Linked DNA regions of Homo sapiens. The protein of the gene in region 1 interacts with the protein of each later gene in a pairwise test. Each region holds a gene or a part of one and is shown on either strand. Other genes may lie near its edges.

Region 1 (3,654 bases):
AGTTTCTGAATCTTAAAGGAACTTAGCAAAGTCTCTCTCTGTTTTGTTTTCAAGCTTTTTGTTTGTGTGTGTGTTTGCTAAAGAGAACAAGTACCCGTCCCCTCCCGAGGGAGGGAAAGCTCACACCCCATTGTGGAGGTGAGAGGTTGTGATGAAAGGTGACCTAAGAAGGAAGCTGAAGTGGACCAGTTTCATATTAGTAGTCTATTGTCATGGACCTGTTCATATCAGTAGTCTATTGTCCTTACACAGGTCTTGAAATGTCCTGTTCATTGATTCGCTGACTCCTTTACCAATATGATTCTACCCTTTCATTTTTGTGTGCCTATTCACTATTCATTTACTCACCTACTCACGATTTACTCATTTCTATGTATTTATTTACTCATTAATTTAAGTAATTTTGAAAACCATTTCTCCCTACAAGCCTACTAGAGGCTGAGCATTGTTCTAGGTGGAGGGATTCAAAGATGACTAAAGTCAGGTGTGGTGGCATGTGCCTGGAGTCCCAGCCTACACCAGAGGCTGAGATAGGAGAATTGCTTGAGCTCAGGTGTTCAAGACTAGCCTGAACAATATAGTGAAACCCTGTCTCTAAAAAAAAAAAATGATGACTAAGAAAAGCTTGGAGTCTAATGCAAGTTCAGGAATAAACCAGAGATCAGCTCTATGCATCTCCACCTCTAAAGGGGAAACAACTGCATAATTCATTTAGTACAAGTCGATTCACTCTAAAATGCCCTCACAGAGCTCACCGTGTAAAACTAATTTGCAATGGTTTGCTTTATTAAGTGGGGATAGCATCTCTTTGCTATGTTAATTTCTTCTGACTTTTTGGAGTGGGTGAGATTTGGACATATCATTTTCTGAGCATGACGGTCCTCTGTCTTTAGCATCATAGGGCTGACTATGAGGTTCCTGGGCTTCTGAGCAGAAGCAGCAGAAGGACCCTGGCTGGTAAGGCCTGCTGGGTTCTTTGAGACAGTTTAAGCACTGAATGGGCCCAGCTGAAGTTGGCTGTGGAAGGCATTGGTCCTCCCAGGTAATAAGGAAGGACAGCATAATTTACCTTCTCCCAGCTTCTGTGATCTCACAATGCTGTCCAGCTTCAACATAGCTGATCAAGGGGCCTGAGATAATAGCAGGCAGGTTTTGAAACCAGTAGACTTGACTTTAAAGGTTCTGCTGCTTCCAAGTTAGGCCTTAGGCTGGTTAGCTGCTCAGAGCCATGGTTCCTCATTTGTGAAATGGGTTCATAATAATTGCAGCAGCAGCAGCAGTAGCTACTGATATGGTTGTAAGGATTAATTGAGTCCATGGAAGGGTAAAGACTCTGTAAAATTTAAGCTGTGACACAGATGTTGGTTTTTATTATTATTCAGCCTCAATCTTCCAAGGAAATGGGGTCAGAGAGCTCCACAGACCTTGAGGGGACAGAGAGGAGAAATGGGGAACAGTCTAGCCTGGTCTTTTCCCTGTTTAGCACTGGGAATAAAGATAAGGTCCCAAATCCAATTTACTCAGAGCTCTGTGGTAGGAGGACTCAGAGATGTGAAAGACAAAGTCCCCAACACCGAGGAGCTTCAGAGGCTCCTGGGCTACTTGGCATAAAGGAACTCTGCTCCCAATGAAGGAGGGAGGGTGCGTGGGAAGGGACCATGGCTTAAGCAAAGAACAGTGAATGTTTATTTACCCTTGCCTGTGATGTTACAAACTTGCAATTCTAACAACTAGAAATGTTGTTGAAGTCATGCAGTGTTTTCTAACTCATGAGTGTGGCACCATCTCCTGAGAATCCGCCCTGGGACTGAGCAGCGGTGGGCAGCTGTTTGCCATCCACAGAGCCTAGGGCAGCCTGGCACAAGCAGGTGTGGGATGGTGGAGGCTGGGGAAGTTGGCTGTAGAAAGCAAGGGGCACCTTCCTCCCTGGTGCTCCCAGGAGGACCAGGGCCACCAGCTTAAGCCCTCTGCTGTCCCTACTGTATGGGCTCCTGTGAGGGGTGGATGGCATGGCCCATGCTGGGCATTCTGGAGACTGCTCAGTGCTGTACCTGAGGGAGAAGATGATGAAAAAGAGGCAGAGGGAAGATGAAAGATTCCCATAGGGAAGCTCAGCTGCTGCAACTTAGGCTCTGCGGTCTGGAGGCATAGCTCTGGTCACCCTCTAAGAGGGTACGATGAGTCTCAAAAATGGTGACATGGAATGCTCCCAGCAGAGATCTTTGTGTATGATGCCGTGCACACACACAATTGCACACAAACGATATCCATGCATGTTTGATGCACACACATAGAAACAGAAACAGGCAGGCGCACGACTGCCTGTAGAAAGCAGAGATGAGTGCTAACAGGGATCAGAGGAGGCGGCGAAACAGAGGAGGGACACTTAGCAACATGCCTAGTGGCCTTGGAGCTCATGGAGGGCTGAGAACAGGTAAGGCAACACCATCAGTCTCACTGCTCTGTCCAGGTTCAGGCAGAGGCTGGGGTTGCAGGGACCGGGCAGTGGTCATAACAGGAGAGAGAGGCTGCCCTGGGCTGTAGAGCTTGGAGTAAAGGGGAGCAGGTGAGTGGTTTCAGGTGAAGGAGTGGACAAAAGTGGGAGGGGCCTGAGCATGGGAATGTCAGGAGTGTCCCCTGCATGGGAGCAGAGAGCAAGGAGGGGCTCTGAGAAGAGGTACACTCTTGGGGACCTGGAAGATGGAGCAGGAGGAGAGCAGGGAGACCTACTTGCAGACTCCATATCAGAAAGTCCACAGGCCATGAGGGAACCCTCAAGGGTGTAGGGTCAGCCATCATCAACACTTTGGTCATTGGCACAAGCTGAGCTGAGAATGGAGGCAGCCTCTCGGGCAGCAGATCTTCTGAGAAGATGTCCTGGGCTGAGGGGTACTTTGGGTTTTGAGCCTCATCTTAAGGGAAAACTCGGGATTGACAGGTGGAGGCAGAGTCTGAGACTAGAACTGACCACTGCCACAGCAGCAGTTCTGCGGGGTGTGTGTGTGTGTGTGTGTGTGTGTGTGTGTGTGTGTGTGTCTTACGTCTGTGTGTGGACACATGAGCACCTCAAGACAGAATTGTGAGTAAAATGTCAATTTCCCATCTGGCTGAACTGCCAGAAAGCTGTTTAAGGGAGGAGGCAGTGATGGATGACAAACACACTGAACATTGAGTCCTTACTATGTGCAGGGCACTGTTCTAAGCTCTTTAGATGTATTAACACTTTCACCCTCACAGTGCCCCTCTCCGTAAGCTACAGACACAGGTATATGGATGGGCACATAGATACACAGCAACACTAACACACCTGGGTTCACAGTTGTATATTTGTACACAGAAATACACAGCTGCATAGACACAAATGTAAACACACATGCAGGTGTATTTAACATGGATGCAAACCAACACACACACGTAGAGACGTGCATAGACACCTTGTGTCTTCAGGGGGCAGGTATGGGATTAGGGGAAGGCATTTAGAAAAGTTGTGTGGACAGCAACAAAGATAATGTGGCTACCTTCATAGGCTTTGCAGGCCTGAGCACATGCAATTTTTTAGAGAAGGAAAAAGAGGCTCAGAGATGTGATTTGCCCAAGGTCACACAGCCACTAAAACACAGATCTGGGACTCGGGAGGCAGTCAGGCTCCTGAAG
Region 2 (3,258 bases), on another chromosome or scaffold:
ACATAAAAGTTGACTCCTTTTTTTGTTTGTTTGTTTTTGAAAAAACTGTTATGATGAACATTCTTGCAGCCTATTTATTCCATGATTATTTTCTTTGTGGAAATTTCTGGAAGGGCAAATGGCAAGGTTTCTGGTACCTGTTGCCTTATTGCCCTTCCAAAAGGTTTGCAAGGAAGGCTGATTTGGGAGACAAGGGCAGGGAGTGTGGAGGCCAGGAGAGGCTCCTGGGTTTCCAACTGGGAGCCTGCTGGTCTGACTGTGTTCCCTGTTCCTGTAGAACCACCGTGACTCGAGGCTGACAATCTTCGAGCAAGAGAACTTCCTGGGCAAGAAAGGAGAGCTGAGCGATGACTATCCTTCCCTCCAGGCCATGGGATGGGAAGGCAATGAAGTAGGGTCCTTCCACGTCCACTCTGGGGCGTAAGTGTATTCAAGGCTCTACCTGGCAGGGGAGGGGCTACTGGGAGGGGTAGGTGTACCTCCTGTGAAAACTGTGTGCTGGGGACTTTTGTGCTCTGATGCCCACATTCCAGAGGAGAACACTGAGGCACAGGGAGGTATCAGGCAGAATTTGAGGGACTGAAACCCAGATCAAACTGGTTTGAGCCCAGAAGATATTTATCAGCCCCTGTAATTAGCTTCAAGCATAGCTGGATCCAGGTACTACAGCAGGTATCTCTCTCCCCCCACAACCCCCAACCTGTTGCCCTGCCTGCCTCTGTGTGACTATATTCTTAGACAAGCTCTTCCTGTGTGAAGGCAAAGGTGGCGGCTTCATCGTTACATCCAGCCCTAGGGAAAGACAGTGTCCAGGCTCAGTGATTCTATTAAAGGTTCCAAGAAAGGTGCTCATTGGTCCAGCTGGGTCCTGTGCTCAACTCTGAACCAATCATCATGCCCATAGGAATGGGGTGTTCTGATTGGCTAGGTTTGGTCATGTGGTCCATTGCTAGATTCAGCCTCATTTTCTCACCTTGGCTGAGAGTGAGAGGCCACAGGCTCTTTGGCTAGAAGAGGGGAGAATGAATGCCCCTAGCCATAAAACACAGGTGTGGCTCCAGCAACCTGCTCAAAGTCCATCAGCAGGTAGGTAACAATCCAGCTTCAAACTCAGCACTGACTGGCCCTTTCCTTTCCACCCAGGAGGTGGCAGGTGAAGGCTAAGGTGTGAGATTCTTATTTAGGGAGGACATCAGAACCACTTTCTGAGGTGCCCCTTGGCTCCTGGTAGGCAGGGGGCAAAGATGGGAGGTAGGGTTTTTCATCTTTTTTTTTTTTCTTTTTTTGGCTTTAGTTTTCTCAGGAACCACCAAAGAATCATGTTGTTTTAGAGTAAGAGGGACCCCTTGTGATTCTTGAGTTCACTTCCTCTTTTACAGAAAGGGAAATGGAGGCTTGGAAAACCAGACACCAATCCTTGTCCTGAACAGAGTAGAAATCAATGAGTTGGGCCAGACACGGTGGCTCACGCCTGTAATCCCAGCCCTTTGGGAGGCTGAGGTGGGCGGATCACCTGAGGTCAGGAGTTCGAGACCAGCCTGGCCAACATGGTGAAAGCCCGTCTCTACTAAAAATACAAAAAATTAGCTGGGTGTCGTGGCTATGCCTCTAGTCCCAGCCACTCGGATGAGGCAGAATTACTTGAACCCAGGAGGCAGAGGTTGCAGTGAGCCGAGGTCATGCCACGGCACTCCAGTCTGGGCAACAGAGTGAGACTCTGTCTCAAAAAAAAAAAAAAAAAAAAAATCAATGAATTGAAATGATAGCTTTTTTTCTTGGAAGTGCCTCTGGATAAGGAAGGAGGGAGAAAGGGGAAAGAACAAGACTTCCCATTCCTTCACTTGTTCACTTATTCAGCAAATATTTAGGAACCCCTTCTTCCTTGCTAGACTTTTATATATTTATGCAGGTGGTGATAACGATGAACAAAACATACACGTTCCTACACTCAGGAGCTTGCCTGCTGGCAGGGGAGGCTGATATTTTACAAATAATTTGAAAACTATCGAATTACATGAGTGCTACAAAGGTATAATAAGGGACTGTGGCCTGATTTGGGGAACGAGTCAGATTGCCCTCATAATTAAGATGAGCCATGAAGGACAAATACAACTTGTCTAGGAAAAGAAAGGCTGGGATGGTGCTTCTGGCAAAGGGAATGGCATGATCAAAGGCCCTGTGGTAGGGGAGAGAGCATGGCACATTGTGAGCACTGAAGAAAGGCCAGGATGGCTGGAATTGTGTGCGTGTGCATAGATCCCTTTGCCCCTGTGTTGATCACCATGCTGGTGTCTCTGTAGAGTAACTGTCTGCCTTTTCTCTTTTCCAGCTGGGTTTGCTCCCAGTTTCCGGGCTACCGAGGATTTCAGTATGTGCTGGAATGCGATCACCATTCCGGTGACTACAAACATTTCCGGGAGTGGGGCTCTCATGCCCCGACCTTCCAGGTGCAGAGCATCCGCAGGATCCAGCAGTGAACAGGGGTGCGGCACGGAGGAGCGCATGCGTGCTTATCTGCAATGGAGGCGCTCTGGAGGCTGTGGTGTGTTCTCTCCTTCTGCCTCCCCCTGTAACCTGTGTGAACCCAGCACCCATGTGAACTGGTCCGTGCACAGTCAGCACAAAAAACTCAAACGAATAAAAAAGAGAAAGTCTGGTATTAGTTGTGCTTTTCAATTTTATTAATCTTTTCAAAGAACCGGTTTTTAGCCTTGTTTTCTCTATCATTATTCCACTGATTTTTACTCTTAACTTCAGTATTTCCTTTCTTCTATTTACTTCAGGCCTACTTTGTTCTTAGTTTTTCTAGCTTTTTTTTAAGGCAGACTTCTGGGTCATTAATTTTAGGCCTCTCTTTCCCCCACCCAGTACGGTCATTTAGCTATAAATTTCCCTCCAAGTATGGCTTTAGCTGCTTCCCACAAATATTAATTTGATGTGTTTTCATTGTCATTCAGTTTGATATTTTCTAGTTTCACTTGTGGTTTTTTTTTTTTCTTTTGACCTATGGGCTATTTAAAGGGATGTTATTTAAATTCCAAATACTTTAGGATTTTCTAGGTGTTTATTGTTATTGGTGTGTTTTTAAAGACCAATGTGGTCGGAGAACATATTCCTTAAGATTTAAGTCTTCTGCAATGAATTAAGACTTATTTTATGGCCCAGCACATGGTTTTTGTATTTTAATTTTATTTTTTGTTTGTTTGTTTGTTTTGTTTTTAATGAGTCAAGGTTTCACTCGTCACCCAGGCTGGAGTG

The links. The genes of interacting proteins can lie anywhere in the genome.
Region 2: the proteins of C1orf94 (region 1) and CRYBA4 interact in binary tests that used the Homo sapiens proteins (3 or more experiments, as listed by UniProt).

Annotation. Positions count from the first base shown.
Region 1 is NC_000001.11:34,204,269-34,207,922, forward strand, and holds part of C1orf94 (uncharacterized protein C1orf94), read left to right. Parts: intron 1-3,654.
Region 2 is NC_000022.11:26,628,011-26,631,268, forward strand, and holds the end of CRYBA4 (beta-crystallin A4), read left to right. Parts: intron 1-277; coding exon 278-420; intron 421-2,329; coding exon 2,330-2,477; 3' UTR 2,478-2,659; downstream 2,660-3,258. UniProt on the Homo sapiens protein: Crystallins are the dominant structural components of the vertebrate eye lens.